Linked DNA regions of Homo sapiens. The protein of the gene in region 2 interacts with the protein of the main gene of each other region in a pairwise test. Each region holds a gene or a part of one and is shown on either strand. Other genes may lie near its edges.

What was found.
Region 1: the proteins of PRDX4 (region 2) and TTF2 interact in a two-hybrid assay, tested with the Homo sapiens proteins (one study listed by BioGRID and IntAct).
Region 3: the proteins of PRDX4 (region 2) and LBP interact in binary tests that used the Homo sapiens proteins (3 or more experiments, as listed by UniProt).

What each region holds. Positions count from the first base shown.
Region 1 is NC_000001.11:117,091,177-117,098,338, reverse strand, and holds part of TTF2 (transcription termination factor 2), read right to left. Parts: intron 7,012-7,162; coding exon 6,929-7,011; intron 6,523-6,928; coding exon 6,389-6,522; intron 5,609-6,388; coding exon 5,438-5,608; intron 3,697-5,437; exon of another isoform or gene 3,611-3,696; intron 3,031-3,610; coding exon 2,972-3,030; intron 2,191-2,971; coding exon 2,040-2,190; intron 989-2,039; coding exon 906-988; exon of another isoform or gene 134-905; coding exon of another isoform or gene 133-133; exon of another isoform or gene 101-132; intron 1-100. UniProt on the Homo sapiens protein: DsDNA-dependent ATPase which acts as a transcription termination factor by coupling ATP hydrolysis with removal of RNA polymerase II from the DNA template. May contribute to mitotic transcription repression. May also be involved in pre-mRNA splicing.
Region 2 is NC_000023.11:23,663,418-23,670,492, reverse strand, and holds the start of PRDX4 (peroxiredoxin-4 precursor), read right to left. Parts: upstream 3,001-7,075; 5' UTR 2,923-3,000; coding exon 2,682-2,922; intron 1-2,681. UniProt on the Homo sapiens protein: Thiol-specific peroxidase that catalyzes the reduction of hydrogen peroxide and organic hydroperoxides to water and alcohols, respectively.
Region 3 is NC_000020.11:38,342,190-38,349,481, reverse strand, and holds the start of LBP (lipopolysaccharide-binding protein precursor), read right to left. Parts: upstream 3,001-7,292; 5' UTR 2,966-3,000; coding exon 2,842-2,965; intron 1-2,841. UniProt on the Homo sapiens protein: Plays a role in the innate immune response. Binds to the lipid A moiety of bacterial lipopolysaccharides (LPS), a glycolipid present in the outer membrane of all Gram-negative bacteria.

The DNA.
Region 1 (7,162 bases), on a different chromosome or scaffold from region 2:
CTTTTTCAACTTGAATATTCTGTGATTCGATTAAGGAGACTTAATTTGTTTCCTTCTTTATTGATTCCCATTGTAACTCCAAATTAGTTTCTCATCTTACCTCTTTAAAATCTTGGATAACATTTCTCTATCTCTGAAAAAAAAAAAAAAGCATGATTCCTAGTATGCTTTCCTCACTCACGTGTACAGAGGAGTCCCAAGTAAGAACTAAACCCGTTCTCCTGGAAGATGATAACAGGTTGACCTATTTGTACCCATCTGGGCTGTCTGGAGAATTGGACCAATGACAATCCCCAGCAGCAATCCTTGATTGGCATAACTGGAAAACCAGAAACTGGTACTCATTATGAGATTTTCTGTTAGCAACACACTAACTCATTCATTCTGTAGCCACGAAAGATGTGGTTGTACTCCTGGTATTAACACTACATACAATGAATCCAAGGGTGAGGTATTAAGTGTATTTCTAACATAATTAGAAAATCCCTATTCCTTTTCTTTTTGGAGTAATGCTTCTCCCTCTTTTCAAAGGTTGAAATTTCCTTGGACCCCAACAAGTGTGTCTGGAATACAGTATTCTGGAGAAGAGGTAAAACTGAGCAAGGTTAACTCTTAGCCATGAGGAAAAGCTATGCTCCCCGTTTCCATGGAAACAGATGTTAGACTAACAATAACGTGAATGAACTATTTTGAGTAGTCATTTGAAGGCTTGCTAGCTCAGGAATTCAGGGGAGTCAGCTAGCCCTATACCCTGCTTAGATCTGTATCTATAGACACATACAAAGCAAGGCATCTCTGCAATACGAACACAGCAATCAACATAAGAAGTCAGTTCTTGCTGCCCCTGTAGCCCACTGGCCTCCTTGATGTGCTGTGACAACCCAGGACAAATCCGGAATCATTACCAGTGCATGTCCAAAAGAAAGAGGTGATTTCCTCCAGTCAGGTTTAGACCAACACCTCCGGCCAAGAGAGAGATTAGCATTACCTTCAAAAGGAAACACAACATTAACTTTAAACAGACTTGGTCTCGTAACACATCTCGGTCTCAGGTTTAAGTCCACAATCAATACAGATAAGCACTGTGTTCCTATCAAATTTCCTTCTGCTGTTATAAATTGTTTTTTTTTTTAACATTATAATGCTATCTCCCATGTCTCACTTTTGAGAAAATTCTCACATCACATTTTGTGTGTGTGTGAGTCAACCTCAAAAAATTAACTGAGTGCTTGCCAAAATATATAAATACTGTAATTTAGAACCCTGGGGATGGTCAGCTCAATAAACTTTCAATTAACCAGATTATGTTTATTTCATCAGTCCCTACCCCTCCATTGCTACAATAATTCTCCTGCCTATCATTCTACTAATGCTTTCCAAATCTTTATTATCTATAATTAGATGCCTGTGTTCTTTCATTTCCTTCCATATTTCCTCATACCAAAACCCCACCTATCCTTCAAAGCTTGCCTCCTCTGCAAAGATTCCCCTCAACCTAACCAGCTCTGCTGTTAATCTCCTTTTAGTCCTCATATTTGATTCTTTTTAGAATATTTGTGCTCTTTAAAAGTATCCCAATACATGTCTAATAAATTCTAAACACTCGGAGGAATCAAGGCTGTAAATATTTTTAAGTTGCCATATCAGAATTCTCTTTATATGGCTGGGCACGGTGGCTTACGCCTGTAACCCCAGCACTTTGGGAGGCCAAGGCAGGTGGATCACCTGAGGTCAGGAGTTCAAGACCAGCCTGGCCAACATGGTGAAACCTCATCTCTACTGAAAATACAAAAATTAGCCAAGCTTGGTGGCAGGAGCCTGTAATCCCAGCTACTTGAAAGGCTGAGGCAGGAGAATCGCTTGAACCCGGGAGGCGGAGGTTGCGGTGAGCCAAGATAGCACTATTGCAGTCCAGCCTGGGCAACAAGAGCAAAACTCCGTCTCAAAAAGACAAAAACAAAAACCAACCAAACAAAAAGAATTCTCTTTGTATAACTCAGAACAGTTAATTATGCGGCTCTGATGTGACCAGCTTGTACCTGAGGGCCTCTGGAGTGGTTAAATGCCTCTACCAAGTCCATTCTCTGCTTGGGATTGACAGAGCCATCGATGGTGGCATAAGTCAGTCCATGCTTCTTCAGGTGCAATGCTACAACTTTCAGCATGTTGGTCCACTGAGAGACAATGACACTGGAAAGAAGAATAAAATAAAAAAATACCCTAACATAGATTAAACAGACTCATCTGCAGGGCTTTAATGCCCTCATCATTCTTAAGGTTAGCTATCAAATGTTGACAAGGAAAGGCCTTCTGCTACCTAAGGGAGAAGGCACACATTTAGGTCATATCTGAAGATTATAATGCTTCCAGTTATTTCTAGGTCCTTTCTACAATTTATTTAGTGCTAAATGAAGTCAGAAAAAAATGGTAGCTAGAGTAAAGTGATGACTCCAGCCTTCTTTCATTTGGGGTCCTAGTGCTCATCCAGAAATCTGTGGTCCTGCACAAAAGGGACACACTGACCACCCTTCTTGTGCCAGCCAGAACAACAGGCTCCTCCCTGCCCCCACGCTGTCTTAATTCGAGTTCTAAATTTTTATATTGAATTATTTTATAAATAATGCAGGTGTATAGCACATATGTCAGGTATAACAAATGAGTCCTTGTATCCAAGTACTCAGCTTAAGAACGTTATCAGCACTGCTGGAGCCTCCTCACTCGCTTGCTTTTCTTTATATGCTTCTCTACTTTTAAACACTTTTTCAGATGCTTCGCTTACCCTGATCCTCTAGGGATCTCCTTTTCAATTTGTACCACAAATATTTTAATTAGAAATCACAGGGAATGTGTGCTATAACCTCAGTGCTTTCTGCTGAGCATGACTCACAGTCCTTGATTTATAACTCTTGGCAATATCAAATTTTCTCACATAATTATGACCAATACTTGGATAATGAGAAAACGCAGTTACCTCTTTTGGGATGCTGAATTTCTTTGAATTGCCTCCAATTCTGCCAACAGAGATGAAATCTGGGAAAAGGTTACATCAACATTGTATGTTTAAGCAATTCACTTTTCTCCATCTCCCCTCACCTGCCATGCGAAGCAGCCTCCTACATGGCGTCTGTGCTCTGGCCTCACCTGTCTTTATTCCACCCTCCTCTCTGCAGCCAGAAAGCTCTTTCTAAAATGTGAGTTTGTCACTTCACCCCTCTGGCTAAAGCCCTTCCATAGCTTCCCACTGAGGATAAAGGCCAAGCTCCTCAAGGCAGCTTGCCGGATTCTTGCTGCTCCAGCCTCTGCTTCTCTGGGTTCGTTTCTCACCATGCCCTCCTCAAACGACACAGCAAGCACACCAAAATTCTTCCCATAAATCACACACTGGCCATCTTGTCCATTCTGCTCCCTCTGCCTAGAACACCCTTTTGTGTCAGCTTAATGTCACTTCTTCTTGGAGGTCCTCCCAACCCCCAAAGTACAGGTTAGGTGCCCACTGCCCAAGTACTATCATAGCACCTTTTGTTTCTATTATCACGGTCCTTGTCATACTGTATATTAATTGCTTATTATCTCTTGCTTCCAGGACTTGAGACACTCCAAGGAGGCAAATATTAGGAAAGTAACTTCTCTGTTTCGGCCATGTGTGAGGGGCTGTGAGTACACACATGGCCAAAACAGAGAAGATACTCTCCTAATGTTTGCTGAAGAAGAAAGTGAAAGAGCTTTACCCACTTTATGGCCTGCTCCAAATGTTGTTGAAAAGGACCTGTCCAGACGGAGGAACCATTGTTAAAGCTTCCGAACAGGCTCCCTGGGTATTCCCCAAGAACCCTTAGGGTGCACTTGAGTCCACAGGGGAGCTGTCAGTAAGAACACGTGGGGCATGACTTTGGAGTGCAGCTGGGCTCATTCTTCCCAGCTGCTCATGTGAAAAACCTTTCAAGAGCCTCTAAGGGCCCCAGAGTTCACCCCCAGAATGCTGGAGAAGGAAGAAAACTGGGCTGTAAGTCAATCAGGAGACAAATATACAGAAGTTCTTCCTCTGTCCTCATATGGCTGGACCACTTTGGGACTCAGATTCCTCATCAGTGAAAAGAAGGACTTAGGCCAGATAAATTCTGAGGTGCCCTGAGCTCCCACATTCTAGGATGTCATTACAGTGGTCACCACATGGGGCTGCTTTCCAATCTTAACAAACATTCTGGTGCCTAGGCAGGAAGTGAGTCACAGAACTGTACCATTCAAATTAGCAGACAGAAAAGCAGCTACATCTGTTATTTAGTTAACAATAGAACAGAGACACTGATGTGCCTGGTGTCTTGGCAACTTGAGATTGTGGAAGGCGCTGTGACTCCCACATGAAAAAGCTAGCCATGGTGTTTTGAGAAAACTGCAGCAGGAGGGCTGGATTTATGGCCCACGAGCCGGGGTCAAATTCCAGTAAGAAGCCTCCTTCCCTACTTGAAACAACCGTATGTGGTTTGAACTATTAATGGACATATGTTAAGAAAACTTGTGAATAAATATTACCTGCATTTAATTAAACAAGGAACACAAATGATTAGGAATTTAAATTTTAGCCCAATAGCTCACTCTGAAGGCACTAGCATGTGTGTTCTGGCCACATGGGATGCTCTTCTTATGTTTCTCTCAGCTATCAGTGGTAAAGACCTAGGTAAATGTTTTCAAATTTTAATTAAAAGGCAGCATTCCTTTTAAAAAATAATGCCATTCCCCTGGAAGTGACCTTTCTAGTTATTAATACACTTTTTCAAAAAAAGCCTTTGAAGAGAGGTTGAGCCCAAGAACGGCAGCTTGAGATGCTAAGAGAGAAACAAGCCTCACTTTCAAGACAGGCAGGATGATGAAGCACATTCCGAGCCAGCAGACAGGCAGGATTCAGGTTACGGCATATCTAAGCCTTCCTCCAGCAGAATGTTTCTGCCTTAAAAAGCTCTGACGAAAACAGAGCAGAATGACTAATGAAGACAGAAGGCTATGTAGGAAACACTACTCACATGTGGAAGCCTTTCAAAGTCAGAGCAATTGGCGCTCGCATGTATGACACAGTCTCTAGAGTCAAGCCTTTGTTTTCCTTTTAAGCTTTCTCTAAACAAATTGCTCACTTGCATAGGCCCCGTCCCTAGCACAAACCTGGCAAGCTCCCCAGTGACCCATGACAGAAAACCCACTTCAGTGCAATGCTGGGGTTGTCCCAAATTACTCTCTCAAAGTCCCCTATGTAGTAAGGCTTTAGTGTTATCTGTGAAATAAATGAAGCTTTAAGACTGGAGGGAGAATCTGATCAGCTAGAATTTAACGGCTCTAGCTCTGCTGGCAAATGGCTGTTCCCACTTGGACAAATGAAGTGCTGTCACACAGGAAAATGTGTGAGGAATCGAAGTCTCTCGACTACTACAGAGGAGACAAAAAGTACCTTGGTGCTCTCTCGCATGCCTTCAAAAAGCTCCATCTTGAAGAAGGTGCCGTTAAGGGAAACAGTGGAAGATGGCTCTGAGTCACGGAGTTCTGACAAGGTCAAAGCACTGAGCTGTTCTTCCAGGGAAAGGACAAGACCTTCACCCTTCAGTTCCATTGGATCCAGGGCCTGAACAGACAAAAAAGGACAGGAGCAGCTGGGAGTCAAGGGAGCAAACCTTGTTACTTGTTGATGATGTTTTGATTGTTTACCACTTCACAGAGCAAAATATCTTGTAATTTGTCATCAGTAACTCCTCAAGACACCTTGATTAAAGTGTGATCTTGCAAGTTTTTTCACCACATTAAAGATAAACCAAATGATGGAACTTTTTAAAGACTTGCCAGGCAGATGACATAATCATTCTATTTTTTCCAAGCTAGAATATAATTGAGATGTTGATAATCAGAATACATTATTACAGCTCCTTAAATGAATAGAATACTCCTCTTAATTTTGGATGTGCCTCTATCCAAGGTAGGGGCAACTTTTCAGTCTGTATAACTATCTGAGTTTTTATAACTGGAACCCAAAACCCCAAAACTGCCTGAAAGCAGAAAACCCCAAGAACTAAATTAGCTTTATGACATTCTGAAGTACCAGAGCATTCACAAATGGCTTCTTTTTAAACAAAATATCATTTTCTTTTCTTAAACAGTTAATCTAAAACAAAATAAACAATAGAAATACACTATTCTTGATGCCATAGGAATTATCAAGATTAATATGAAATAAAGCAAAATAAATAAGCCCCCTTTTCTCCAACCCACCAAAAAACAAAAATAGAAAAACCGAAACAGCATTTCCTTTGATCAAGCAGACTGGATTCCAGTTGGAGGAGAGTGAAATTGACTTCTCAGGTGGCCCCTCTGGAGCACTATATGACAGCAGGCTGAGGGCTTTTCTTACCGACTTCAGTAAAGAAAGATGACAGCAACACTGGCGGAGTCTCAGCAACTGGGACAGTATGTGGACGGTGCTGGATCTCGGTGAGTCTGCTGCCTCCGAGTGTCTAGGCTCCTCAGACCCAAACTCCAGTGCCACTTCCAAGAGGGAAGACAAGCCACAGGATGGTACAGGATTTAAAAGAGAAATACGGAGAGAGCCAGGAACTACATGGGGCTACTTTAACCATGTTTGATCTCAGACTCAATAATATAGTTACAACTCACTTCTATAGGCCACTTCAATTAGGCCAAATGAAATATCGGTTTTTCCTTATAGAACTACCTGCATTTTAATAAAGCAGATTTAGGAAACAATTAAAAAGAAGCTAAATAAACACCAGATCTCGTGTTTGCAATCAGTAGATTTTACTCTGGTTTGAGGGTCTTAGTTAACGCCAAATCTCTGATACCAAGGATTCATAACCTCACATTTCTGTGTTTTACTGAATCCAAATCCCCATTTTCACCAGTCATATGTATTTATGAGAGTCCTACAGCTTACCTCTACTGAATGGATTATTAGGGCTTCTTCCAGATTGGTTGCCTCTACTTTCATGTCTTTTTAGATAGGATTGCAGAGCTGACCTGCCTCAGATTAAAAAGAAAAAAAATGCATGTATAATGGTCACTAAGACCTGCTTAACTGTGCCTGCAGTGGGATCTTGACAAATTATAGAAGACTTGTTAAATGATGCCAAGCTCATAAGAAGCAATGGCCAAAGGTAATGCAAAAGAA
Region 2 (7,075 bases):
TCACTCCAAAATAGAGACAAACAACATGAATTTCTCTTAAAAATTAATATATAACATATGATTACTTATCTTGAGCCAGCATCCTACCTCATATATATAATCCTGATCTGATTAGGTAAAGGCCAGGAGGGAGAAATAGACAGCAGAAGAGTATTCAATTATATATACTTTAAATAAATTACTTAAAATGCTACTCAAGTGAGAGGTTATAATAATTGTAATGATCTATTACAATGACACGCCTTAATGATTTTAGCATACTGGGAAAACCATATTTGAAAAATAAATTTTGTTCTGAAAATTGATTTTGGAAATATTTGGTTAAGAATGGTAGTTACTTTGCTAAGATCTATAAATGGAATTCCCAAAGCAATCCCTTGCATTTATTAAAAAAACAAAAATTGTCTTGAATATAAATTATGTAATTAACATAAAGATTCTGGTAAATGCAGAGAAGTACAAAGAATACTTAAATCCTCTCTCTCCATAACTCCCATCAACTACTGTTAACATTCTGATGTCTGTCTTTCTAGTCTTATTTTTTTTAATTTTAGTTATTTACTTTTTTTTTTTTTGAGACAAGAGTCTCAGTCTGTCGCCCAGGCTGGAGTGCAGTGGTGTGATCTGGGCTCACTGCAACTTCCGCCTCCCGGGTTCAAGGGATTCTCTTGCCTCAGCCTGCCCAGTAGCTGGGATTACAGGTATGCGCCATCACACCCGGCTAATTTTTGTATTTTTAGTAGACACAGGGTTTCACCATGCTGGCCAGTCTGGTCTCGAACTCCCGACCTCAGGTGATCGGATGGCCTCGGCCTCCCAAAGTGCTGAAATTATAGACGTGAGCCACCACACCTGGCCTTTCCGTTCTTTTTTAAACACAAATTTGCCACGTGTTGCATCCCGCCTTTTTTTTCTCCTTAAAGGAAACAGTAAATTAATTATGAACAGTTTTTGATATTACTAAAAATTATTTGAAAATATGGCCTTAATGGCTCCATAATAGTCTTTACTAACAAAAGTCTTTGTATCTTTAATTATAGATAAGCCTACATGTGACAGAGAAATGTAGTAAACAACTAAAATGTTAAGTTTTGCTGGTAAAGGGAAAGCTTTGAAGTAGATTTGTTTCCTATGGAAAATATATGTAATGTAAGTAAACACTTAACTGGCTGACATATTTAAAATACTTTCCCAGGCAAGTAAAACCAGTGGGACTTGGAAATACTGATTTTAAAATTTAAGACTGGTTTTGTTAAAAATCTCAAAGTAGGCTGGGCACCGTGGCTCACGCCTGTAATCTCAGCACTTTGGGAGGCCAAGGCAGGCGGATCATGAGGTCAGGAGTTCCAGACCAGCCTGGCCAATATAGTGAAACCCCGTCTCTACTAAAAATACAAAAAATAGCCGGGTGTGGTGGTGCGCGCCTGTAGTCCCAGCTACCTGGGAGGCTGAGGCAGAAGAATCGCTTGAACCCGGGCGGCGGAGGTTGCAGTGAGCCGAGATCGCGCGACCGCACTCCAGCCTGGGTGCCTGGGTGACAGAGCAAGACTTCATCTCAAATAAAAAAAAAAAAAAAGTCCCAAAGTGGTTAACTGAAAGTACTTACTTTCAGCAAGTAAGAACTGTAAATGTTTAAGAGGACAAAACAGTTTTTCTCATTTATCACTCCCAACCAACCCATCCTAAGTCATAACAACATTCCATTTAACTCTAGGGATTCAGAATTTGAAGCATTACTTTTTTCACTGAATACTGGCATGGAACATGCTGTAACTGAACCATAAAAACCAACTACACACCTACAGAATGTCAAATGATCTGCAGGAAAAGCAGGTTACTGAATAGCAAGCAAGAGACAGCCTTTATCTATAGCCACTGTTCACTTTTGGTTAATTTTAACATCCAGATGTAGCAGGCTACAACTTTCACAGTATCTACTTCGTCTGACGTGTCATTCCTGAAAGTGGCCATTAGCTTTGTACACTGGACAGAAATGCAAATAATCAAAAACCAAATTGGCAGGACACAAATTTGCCACGAGGTTTATCATCAACCCAAATGCATACTTCTAACCTTTTCCCCCATTTCCCTCAAAAGTACACTCTGTAATAGGTTCTTCATGTCTGAGAAACATAAGGAATATCCATTAACTACACAGGCTTTGGGGAAGGTGGCTTTCAGTAATAATCTTTGTAAGATGCAAACAAAAAGGAAGAAAGAAAAATGAAATGTTTGACCTCCCGAGCACTGTGTTTAGCAACTTTTCTGTTTAATCAAACTTTTTGTGAATCATTATTCAACCTATCAATGTCTTCCTTCGCTGAAATAGTACCTGAAAAAGACAGGATGTGCTGAAGGCACTTTGAGATGTTTCAGGAACTGTTTCAGTTTGCCCAACATCCTCGATGCAAACTCGGGACTAGGGCCACCCACTTTCCCTCAGCTGCGGCTTTTGGGGTAACCACTACCTCTTCTAAAATCTGATCAGTGGAAACCATACCTTTCTTCACAGCTAGAACTCCCCTTTATTCCCCTCCCCGCCCTCCTAGGTGAGAACCAGGCCCGCCCAGGGCCCGGAGGCAGCCCAGGGGGTGCCGCCCAAGCCCAGATTCCGGGGGTGTAACCGGGGTACACGTGTCTCCGGAATCTCCCCTCCCACCCTTTGGCGGGACACCACCTACTCTTCGCTTTGCTTAGGTGCAGGGAGTGGTCGGCGACCGATACCCGGGATGCCTCTCCCGGGTACACTTGTCCACCCGCGTAGAAGTGGCACTCCTCTTCGCGAGTCCGGGGCCTCTCCTCTGTCTCCCAGCCCTGCACAGCTCCAGCCGGCAGCAGGAACAGCAGTAGCGGCAGCAGAAGCAGCCTTCGGTGGCGGCCGTGGTCCGGAGTTGTCGCGGCTAGCAGCGGCAGCGCCTCCATGACCACGCGAGCGCAGAAACACGTCCCTTGGCGCGAGCGCCGCTTCTGCCGCCGCCGGGCAGCTACAACCGCGTGCACGACGCCCGCGCGAACCGGGGCGCGGCCTCGCGAGACCAGCTCCTCCCCCTACCCCCCCTATCTGCTCCCCGCCCCGCCACGTGGGCGCCGGCCGCACCTCCCCCATCCCAAGCCTGCATTTGCGCCTGCGTCCCGCGGCTGACCAGGACCGGGAGCGTTGCCCAACTCTGTGAAGGCAGCGACAAGGTCTCCTGACCTCCGCGCTGTTTTAGACATCTTTCCACGTCCATCTCTTCCACAAAGCCTCACCACTGCACACAAGCCCCTCACAAGCGGAATCTAACCTATATGCTTGTGAATGGCTTGCATTTTATACTTCTAATAAGCTTTTTAAAAAGTCACTTAACGTTTTTAAAAATTATATTTACTTGACAAATCATAATTGTATACATTCGTGGGATGCAATGTGATTTTTTGAAATATGTATCCAATGTGGGATGATTACATCACATTAACTTATCCATCGCCTTGTTTACCTATGACTTTTATGGTGAGACATTTCAAATTTACTCTTATTCATTTTGAAATATACATTATTATTGACTGTATTTACCCTGCTGCTTACCAGAGGTTGGGAAGTAGGGAAGGCGAGGCGAGAGGGAAGGAATGGGGAGTTAGTTGTTGGTCAGAGGTTACCAAGTTCCAGATAGACAGGAATAAGTTTCAAGATCTAATAGACATTTACTAATTTTTTTTCTTGAAGTGATTTGTGTGAACGGGGCCATGATCTGCACTACTTGCAGCTCTTTTAAGTCCTGGAAAAACTTAGGGAGGGTAGGTCTAACCATTTACTTTCCTCCAGCATGCAAGGGCGTACAGGCAGTTTTTAGTGACCTAATCTATTGTTTCAAAGACAGCTTTTTTTTTTTTTAATTTAAATGAAGACTTGAAAAGTTACCAGAAAACTCTCCCAGCAGTGTTGTTCCTTTTTCTGACAATTACCCCATCACCCAACCCCTGGCCTTTTCCCTGCCCTCCCCACCCATCTCCCCGCCGTGGGCACCGCCCCGCTTGCCGCTGCAACCTGCCGTGTGCGTCTGCGCACTGGGGGCAGGCCCAGGCCACCGAGCGTCCACCAACTGGACTAAGACCACCTTGTGTCGTCACTTGTGACCGATCTTCTGCACTCCCACCCTCAGCACTGTTTTAGACCCTGTTCATCCTTCTGGGCCCATCTTGTACACAAAACTTCGCAGGTGACTGGCCTCGCGCCCTCAGCACTGTTGTAGGCCTTCTCATCCTTCACACCTATTTCTTCCACAAAGCTTCGCCCATGGCTGTCTTCCCACCATTGAAGTGCCAACGACCCTCGCCGCCAGCACTTGTTAGACATCCTTCCACGCCCATCTCTCCCAAAAAGCCTCCTCATCCCACGCCACCCCCGCCCCTCAAAGGGAAACTGACCTTTCTGCCTCTGAATAGCTCGCGTTTTATCCCTCTAACAGACATTTCTTATTCTTTTCCTTGCAGTGATCTTTGTGAACAGCCATGACTCCTCTCTCAAGTCGGAGCCCTTTTCAGGTCCCCAGAAAACTTGGAGAAGAAAAGTCTAACCTGAAAAGCCATATCCCTAGACCATTTCTTCTCTTCCAGCTGGAAAGGAACTATGGGGCAAACAGGCAATGTTGCAACTTAACCCTGTGTTAGGTTGTTTTTTTTTTTTTTTTTTTTTTTAGACAGAGTCTCGCTCTGTCGCACAGGCTGGAGTGCAGTGGCAATCTCGGCTCACTGCAACCTCCACCTCCCAGGTTCAAGTAATTCTCCTGCCTCGGCCTGCCGAGTAGCTGGGATTACAGGTGCGCGCCACCATGCCCAGCTAATTGTGATCCGCCCACCTTGGCCTCCCAAAGTGCTGGGATTACAGGCATGAGCCTGTATGATCCCAGGGTGCCCTCTGTCCTCCTGCAAGTGCTTGTTATCTTTCTTTTTAAATTAAAAAAAATTTTTTGTGGCTACATAGTAGGTATATGTATATATATATGTATATGTATATATATATATTTATGGGGTATATGGGATATTTTGATTCAGGCACACAGTGTGTAACAATCACATCATGGCAAATGGGTTATCCATCACCTCAAGCATTTATCATTTGTGTTACAAACAATCCAATTATACTCTTTTAGTTATTTTAGGGTATACAATTAAATTGTTATTGACTATAGTCACCCTGTTGTGCTATCAAATACTAGGTCTTATTCATTCTATATTTCTGTACCCACTAACCATCCCCACTTTCCTCCCCAGCCCCCCACTACCCTTCCCAGCCTCTAGTAACCATTCTTCTACTCTCTATCTCTATGAGTTCAATTGTTTTAATTTTTAGCTCCCACAATTAAGTGAGAACATGTTAAGTTTGTTTTCTGTAAGCACCTGTTATCTTTCTGAATCCTGCAGAAACCATCCTAAGTTTGTCTTTCCTCTACTAGACTGTGGGCTGTCTGGGGCTGAAATCAATGTGTAATAGGTCTTTGTTTCCCAAAGAACCTGGCCCACAGTAAGCAACTGACATTGCAAACACCTGATTTTATAAATAACACCTAATATTGCAGACAGCCTCAGTTTCAAGTTGCTTTCACATATTTTATCCTTACTCCTTGTGAAACAATCTTTTGTGGCAGATAGAAAATTTCCCCTTTCCAAACTCATCCCTCACCCTAGTTCTGCCCACTGTATACTCTGCTTTCTGCCTCCCGGCCCCTGCTTCCTGGAGGTAAAGGATGAAAAAGATGATGCCAGCCTCCTTCTGCTGAGGGAGGGTGTGTCCTTACCCATAACATTATCTGGCAGCTCTTCACTTTCTGGTGGCTCATAGATAGGAGGCCTCTGACGAGGTGGCTCTCGCTCCCAGTCTTCTCCTTCCCTGGCCTCCTGTTGCACGTGGAAGGGGAGTGGGACTCGGGGGGCTCGGGACTGAGTCCCAGGGATTCGGTTCAGGCCTGTGCCCCGTAGTCGGCTTCGGTGATCCATGGTGACTGTTGGACAAACAGCCACAAACCTCAGTGAATTCTAGGCCCAAAACTGGGCCTCTAAGTTTGGACCTGGGAAAGGAAGCTTGAGGAAAGCGTTATGTCCCTACACGTCTTTGCTCTGGGCTGAGCTGAGATGCCCTAGCTGGCAGCAGAGACTGCCCACCAAGTGGGCCCCTGTGGCCCACTGGAGAGAGTGACCAGATCGGCCAGCTCTCAGGCACCTACTGTTCGTCCCTCAGTTCTGTTGGAGCTCCCTGGCAACTGACATTCTGGGTGGCAGTTGCTCTGAATCCTTTCATCCAATGATATTTGTGCAGACATTGTGATATCACAGTGACATCAACAAGGAAGCTTGAGGTGGGGGCCCTGCCCTCAAGATACTTACCATCCAGCTGGAGTCAGTAGCCCATATTAATAATACAAAACCATCAGAGACAGGGGGCAGGTTCCAAATCCAGGATGCACCTCAGAAACACTTGGGGAGCTTAAAAACATTCTGTCTGGGCGCGGTGGCTCACGCCTGTAATCCTAACACTGTGGGAGGCCAAGAAAGGCGGATCACTAGAGGTCAGGAGTTCAAGACCACCCTGACCAACATGGTGAAACCCGGTCTCTACTAAAAATACAAAAATTAGCCGGGCGTGGTGGTGCACACCTGTAATCCCAGCTACTCAGGAGGCTGAGGCAGGAGAATTGATGGAGCCTGGAAGGCGGAGATTACAGTGAGCCAAGATTGCGTCACTGCACTCCAGCCTGGGCAACAGAGTGAGACTCCGTCTCAAACAAACAAAAAAACAAAACCAACCAACCAACCAACAAAACCATTCAAGTGCTGTGATTACAGGCCCAGAAGTGATGTTTCCTTCTTTTTTTTGAGATGGAGTCTCGCTGTGTTACCCAGGCTGGAGTGTAGTGGCATGATCTCAGCTTGCTGCAACCTCCGCCTACCGGGTTCAAGCAATTCTCCTACCTCGGTCTCCCGAGTAGGTGGGATTACAGGCACACACCACCATGCCTGGCTAATTTTTTGTATTTTTTTAGTAGAGATGGGGTTTCACTGTGCTGGCCAGGCTGGTCTCGAACTCCTGACCTCGTGATCC
Region 3 (7,292 bases), on a different chromosome or scaffold from region 2:
GGTGGCTCCCACCTGTCCTCAAGAGAGGGGCCAACATCCTTATTAGCATTAAGTACAATGACAGGATATGAGCCCCTCTGTGTGCCAGGTAGCATGAGGGACATTCAGAGGTGTCCCTGCATTTCTGTGGCATTGTTAGGTTCATGCCCATTTTACTGATGAGGAAATGGAATGCCTTTGCCAACAAATCCCCAAGGGCAAAAGTGCTGTGCGCTTGGACGGATAGTCCTCCTTCTTGTTCTCCATGACATCTGGCCTGTGTAGAAGAAACTGGAAGGATCTGGGGGCTAGAGAAAGAGGGCATCTTTCTAGCTGGGTGACTTTGACAAAGTCCCCAAACAACCTTCACTTTGTTCATCTGTCAAATAGCAATGACAACAATACATTTGCTGGGCGTGGTGGCTCACGCCTGTAATCCCAGCACTTTGGGAGGCCGAGGAGGGCAGATCACCTGAGGTCAGGAGTTCGAGACCAGCCTGGCCAATATGGTGAAACTTCATCTCTGCTAAAAAATACAAAAATTAGCCGGGCATGGTGGCAGGCACCTGTAGTCTCAGCTACTCAGGAGGCTGAGGCAGGAGAATCACTTGAACCCGGGAGGCAGAGATTGCAGTGAGCCGAGATCGCACTACCGCACTCTAGCCTGGGCGACAGAGTGAGACTCTGTCTCAAACAAAACAAAACAAAACAAAACTAAACTAAACTAAACTAAACTAAACTAAACTAAACTAAACTTTCCTCATTGGCATGCCATTGAAACTGCAAAGCAAGAAGGGGGCTGTGAGGATAACAAGCACTCCTAGCTTGGTGCCTGACACACAGCAGGCACTCAGTAAATGCCTGGAACAGCAAATAGGGTTTATATTATTAAAAATATGGAAAGGGGTCGGGCGCAGTGGCTCACGCCTGTAATCCCAGCACTTTGGGAGGCCGAGGCGGGTGGATCATCGAGACCATCCTGGCCAACATAGTGAAATCCTGTCTCTACTAAAAATACAAAAATTAGCTGGGCGTGGTAGCATGTGCCTGTAATCCCAGCTACTCGGGAGGCTGAGGCAGGAGAATCACTTGAACCAGGGAGTCGGAGGTTGCAGTGAGCTGAGATTGTGCCATTGCACTCCAGCCTGGCAACAGAGTGAGACTCCGTTTCAAAAAAAAAAAAAATATGGAAAGGACCAAAATGTCCAACCTCAGAGGACTGGTTACATAAACATGGTGTGTGTGCACAGTGCAAAGGAACAAAAGAGAAACTTCCCTGATTTACAGTTTCAATGCAAGTAGCAGTTACCAGGTCCCACTGTTCCGAGATCTGAGGGGCCCAGGTTTCTGTCCCCAAGGCAGACATGGGTACACAGATGACCAGCAGCCTCCCCTTTCACCTCTTTCCAATTTGCTCTTCTCCCTCTAGCAAACGCACATGTTGGGGTCCTTCCGCCTGGAACGCTACCCCTTGTCCCTGGGTAATTCCCACTGTCTTTTCCATTTTACTATATCCTGGAATCCTTCCCTGATTTCCCTCTGCCTGTCTCGAGCCAGTCTGGGCTCCCAACAACCCTATCTAAGGGAATGTTGTTATCTCATTTAATAGGTAAGGCAATTGAGGCTCTAGGGATGTGAGAAGACATGTGGTCAGTGCCTGTCCATATCCTTGAGTCTTTCCAGTGAGTGACAGTTGACTCCCAGCTGCCAATGTCTGCCTCCCTGAGCCTGTATGTCCCGAGGCTTTTTGTCCTGGAACTGCAGAAAGCAGGTACATGCAACAGGACAGAAGTGCTGGGGAGTTGACAAACCCCCGGCCCAGAAGCCCTCAATCAATCACTGTGGTGTATAAATATCCCAGTTCCCATGCCACCTGGATAGTCGGGAGGCTTTGTTTCAGTATTTAAAAAAAAATACTCCTACTTTTGCTCATTCTTTGTTTTATTTTTATTTATTTTTTTGAGACAGTCTCCCTCTGTTGCCCAGGCTGCAATGCAGCAGCATGATCTCGGCTCACTGCAACCTCTGCCTCCCGGGTTCAAGCGATTCTCCTGCCTCAGCCTCCCAAGTAGCTGGGATTACAGTTGGCTGCCACCAAGACTGGCTAATTTTTGTATTTTTAGGAGAGGCGAGGCTTCACCATGTTGGCCAGGCTTGCCTCGAACTCCTGGCCTGAAGCTATCCACCCACCTCGGCCTCCCAAAGTGCTGGGATTACAGGCGTGAGCCACTGTGCCTGGCCTGCCCATTCTTTAAAATTGAGGAATAATATACATAAAGTACCTAACGGGCACAAATTTTAAAGGTATTGCTAAATAATTTTTAATGTTTATACAGGAATGTGATCACCACCTGGATCAAGATATGGCAACTTCCAGCACCCCGGCAGACCTCCCTCATGCCCTTCAGGGTCTCTGCCTGCCTCTAGAGGTGACCACAATTCTGACTTCCAGTTCAGAGGCATGTGTTTCCAAACTTTACGCAGAATTTTCCCAGCTGAGTGGTTCCCATCATCAGAGGTGGTGGCTGGTTTAATTGCACACTCTCTCCTGGCTGCCCTCCCTTCCTCATCTCAGTACCGATTCCCTACAGTGTTTCCTGGAATCATTTCCCAAATCAACTACTTGCACGCAAAGCTGTGTTCTGTTGGCTGGTGGAGGACCTCACTACCACAAATAACATGCCCAGGGCACTCAGCTGGTGGGCAGTAAGGCCAGAATAGGAGCCAGAGCCACCTGACCCAGAAGGTGGCACTGCCCCAGGGAGAGGGTCCGGTCTGTGTCCCCACTCCCTGTCCCCACTGTACCCAGAGCAGCCTGGAGCGTGGGTTTGCCAAGTCCAGCCAGCAGATGTGGCTTCTTACCATACTGCAGTCCCTTGTCGGTGATCCTGGCGACCAAGCCGGGGTTGGCACCCAGAGCCTCTGGGGTGGACGTAAGCAGCAATGCCAGCAGTATGGACGGCAGGGCTCTGGCCAAGGCCCCCATCCTAGATTCCCAGTGCAGTGGGCCAGGACTGTCCCAGCTGTGGATTGGGCCCAGGTCCCTTAAGTAGCCAAGGCTCGATGGCTGGGGGCAGTTCCTGAGGCTGGATGGGTTCCTGGGAGCGGGAAGGGGAGGCACAGGGACTGGAACCTGCTTGCGACATCACTGAAGTCATAAGGTCATACTTAGAAGCCAGTTTTCACTGCCCAGATCAGTGGATGAGGAAGCCTGACTCCTATGATCATCCCTGTCCACCCTCCCCACAGAAAGACCCCATATTCATCACTGTTCATCTTGCCTCATCTCAGCCAGTCTCTTAAGAGCTCGGCTAGGAAGGCCTGGTTTAGCAGATGAGGAAACTGAGGTTCAAAAAAGCCACATAGCTCCCTTGAGATCTCACCCCCAGCAGAGGGCAGGGTTGAGAGTGAAGCTACATCTGGCACCAACCAAACTCTCTTTTTTAAAATATATTGGCTCGTTTATTTAAAAAATAAATGTTTCCCCCAATGGGAAAACAGTGTTTCTCAAACCTTGCTGGTGGTGAAATTTTCTGGAAGGCAATTGGCAAATGTTTAAACAGTTGCATGCCCTGTGACCCAGGAATTCAATTTCAGGGACTTGCCCTTAAATACATAATTGAGTCAGTGTGCCAGTAAATCACTGCTCCAAGATACCACTGCTATGCTGTGGGAAACAGGACAGGAGAAGTGAGACCCAACCTCATGTATCCACCAGAAGGGCATTGGTTAAATGAATTATGACATGCCCCTTAAAGTGAGGCTGCAGAAATAAAGGTATTTCTTGGCAAGGAAAGGGATGTCATGAGGCATCCGTTTCCGATGGCACCATAGAGTAAGGTTCTATTTTGGGGGGTTCAAAATAGGCTTCTATGTTCAACAATCTGGAAAATATTTAGCAAGGAGTCATGAGGCATTGTCTCTGGTTGTGGGGGTAGAATTATAAGTGTTAAAAAAGTTTTTGCTTGTTGATACGTACAATTTTTTTTTCTTTTTTCATTTTTTGAGACAAAGTCTACTCTGTTGCTCAAGCAGGAGTCCAGTGGCATGAACATCGCTCGCTGCAACCTCAACTTCCTGGGCTCAAGTGATCCTCCCACCACAGCCCCCTAAGTAGCTGGGACTACAGGTGTGAGCCACCATGTCCAGCTAATTTTTTGTATTTTAGTAGGGACGAGGTCTTGCTATGTTGCCCAGGCTGGTGTCGAACTCCTGAGCTCAAGTAAGCCTCCCGCTTGGCCTTCCAAAATACTGGGATTATAGACTTGGGCCACCATGCCCAGCCTCTAAAATTTTTATTTTCTTGGGGGTATGGTCCCGGGCATATATTCGCAGTAAGTAAAGATAGTAAAATTTCATTCTGGAAAACAAAATTTATAGTACAGACTGTGTTTAATTTTTAGAGTTTTGCCCCAGCCCTGCTTACATTTGTGAGTTCTGCTTTGCCCTCACCCCCAGGAAGCCTTCCCTGACCACTCCCATGCTTCTCTGGATTCTAGAAAGGGTCCCCTCTGAGGTCCCAGAACCCTTTGCGCTTTCCCCACCACAGCATTAACCACTCTGCTTTTTGATAATTGTGGTCCTTTAAAAATATGCCCACGAATTCTTTGATATTCCTTCCATCAAAAGGTAATGTTTCTGCCCCCTTCCCTTGAAATTGGGCAGGTTTTCATGATGGCCTCAACCAACTGAATGTGGTGGGATTAACAGGGTGACTCCCAATAGGTCACAAACAGCACTGGCAGGCACTGAGGTTAAGATCAGAATGTCCCACGTTAAGCACAGGGAACCCCACAGTCCAGGCCTCTCTGCTCCTCTGTACCGTGTTGCTCCTGTCACTGGGGCTGAGGTTTGTTGGGATCCTCATCCGTCCCTCCCCTCAGTCCCCACACCACCAGTCTGATGGCTCCTTGCAGGCACGGCTGAGTCTTCCATTTCCTGAGATCCTTGCAGCACCCAGCAGAAATTGGAAAGAAACTGATATTTATTGAGCACCTACTATGTGCAGGCGCTGTGCTGGTTAAGCTGCACGTCTCCTCTCATCCTTGCATCAGCAACCCCAGGTGGATATTTTAGTCTTGTCTTGAGATGAAGAAACTGAGGTTTGGCAGGGTGAAGTGATGTAGGCTGCAGTCACCCAGCAGGAATTTAAGTCCAGGTCTGCAGGATGCCATTCCAAAACTCTGGTCAGGGCAGGGTTCTCTTGGGAGGCAACAAGCTGAGCAGAGGCCTCAGGGTAAGGAGCCAGCCTTTGGGAGGCTTTGGAGCAGGAAAGGGCTCACAGGTGCATCCCCAGTGTGCCTAGGGGCCTTTGCTTCCTGGACCTCAGCCTGCCCAGGAGGGGAGGAGAGTGGGGGAGGACATTCTGGAGCATAAGGATCTTATGGGGACATAGATGTCACTCTTCCTCTGGCAGCAGTTTAAGGATGTCCCTGGCTGGGAGTCATTTGCAGGGGTGGGAATTTCCCACAGCAGCAATCTTTGGACCTTAGAGCTGCCACATGGCCCAGGCCTGGCCTCCACCCCTGCAGGTGCCCACTGCTGGCTAAGGTCCCTGCTGATGGCCCAGGACCCAGCAGAGGCCTCAGGGAGCAGCACGACCCCACTGCTGGTCAGAACCCCTGGGCCTTTCTCCTACCAGGCTGTCCATCCAATTCCACAAAAGCAACAGCTGCTACCACTCTGGCCACCACTCAGTCTTATTGCAGTGAAATAGGGACTCTTTTAACAAGGCTGTTTATTGTGTTCTTGTGCAGGAGAGGGCCCCCAGAAATGGCAGTGCATCAAATGATGGACAGGCGATCATAAAACTGTCCCTCTGACATGATAAGTGGCCACGAATGGCGCCAAGAGGGAGAGGAGTTCCCTAACAGATAGTTGACATCATCTGGAGCCAGCAAACCACAATTCCCTGGTAAGGTCGAGCAGAAGGGCAAATGTTGGAGTCTGACTTGTATATGACCTTTTTCTTGCGGCGACGGACCAGTAAGGGAAAATCACCCCAAGTGAGCATGCGCACAACCTTAGTAAACACACTGCGCATGCGGCCCCTCCCAAGTGCTGGCAGGCCATTGCGCATGCAGGGAGGGCGCAGCAGCCCACCGAAGGGAGGAATCAAGGAGGAGAAGAAACCCCAGAACCAAGCCAGTGTATAAAAGCCCCGAGCCAAAGGTTGAGCGGGGCACTTGATCTCTCAGTTGTACTTTGCTTCTTTCAATAAACCTTTGCCTCTGCTTTAAAACTTGCCTGCGTCTCTCAATTGAATTCTTTCCTCTGAGAAGACAAGGGCTGGGAGTGTTGCGGACTCGCCACCGATAATATTCTCACTACAAAAGTGTTACTGAAAAGATTTTGAAAAACCCAGAATTTGGAATCCATAGTGTCTAGAATACTGAGCAGCAAATAGTAGATAATTGCCAAAGGAATAAACAAACCTTATGTTTATCTTTATGGACTCTGGGGCCAGATGGCCTGGATTTGAATCCTGACTCCCCCACGGGGTGACTTTGGGCACTTTGTGACTCAGTTTCCTCATCTCTACTTGGGTTCAGCCAGAGGGTGGCATGGCAGGAGGTCAGATGTCAGGGCACTTTTCCCTGCTGTCTTCTCTAGATCACAAGTGTGGCAGTTGGCTGTGTCCCTCCTGATAAGGCCTTGTCCTTGGCTCCTATTATCTCCTTGGGCTGGGATACCCAGATGCTTTTCTTTGCTGCTTGAGCCTTAGGAAAAACAGTCCCTGGTTGGTTTCCTCAAGCTTGTCCCCCAACTCTAGAAATAGCCACTTTATTCAAATCCCAAGAACCAATGCAGTTGGATTCTCTTTTCTTGCCTGAACCCTGTTGGACACAATTAGCAACACTGAGCATTTCTTCTGCACTTATTCATCTTTTGTGCAAACGCCTGCCTCTCGCAGAGAGCTTTGAATCCTTTTCCAAAGTCTTACAGGTTTTTTGTCAAGGCCCTGCTCCTAATGGGCTGGGGGACCTGGAACAAACTCCACCCCTCTCTGTTCCTCATGTTTCCCCCAAATGCAGATGAGGGCTGGGGACTAGGACAGCTTTTCAGAAACAAAGACGTGCAGTCAAGTCCCCCAGGGATCTTGTTTAGATGCAAATCTTGATCCATCATGTTCCTCTTGGGGCTGAGCCTCTGCATTTTAACAAGCTCCCTGGTGAGGGTGATGCTGCTGACCACGGATTGTGCTTGGAGCTTCGGGAACAAGGGACTAAATGAGCTCCGAGTTCCCTCCAAGCTCAGCAGTTCTCTAATGCTTCACTCTCCTTTTCGATAGTTTTCTATGACGGTGCCCACAC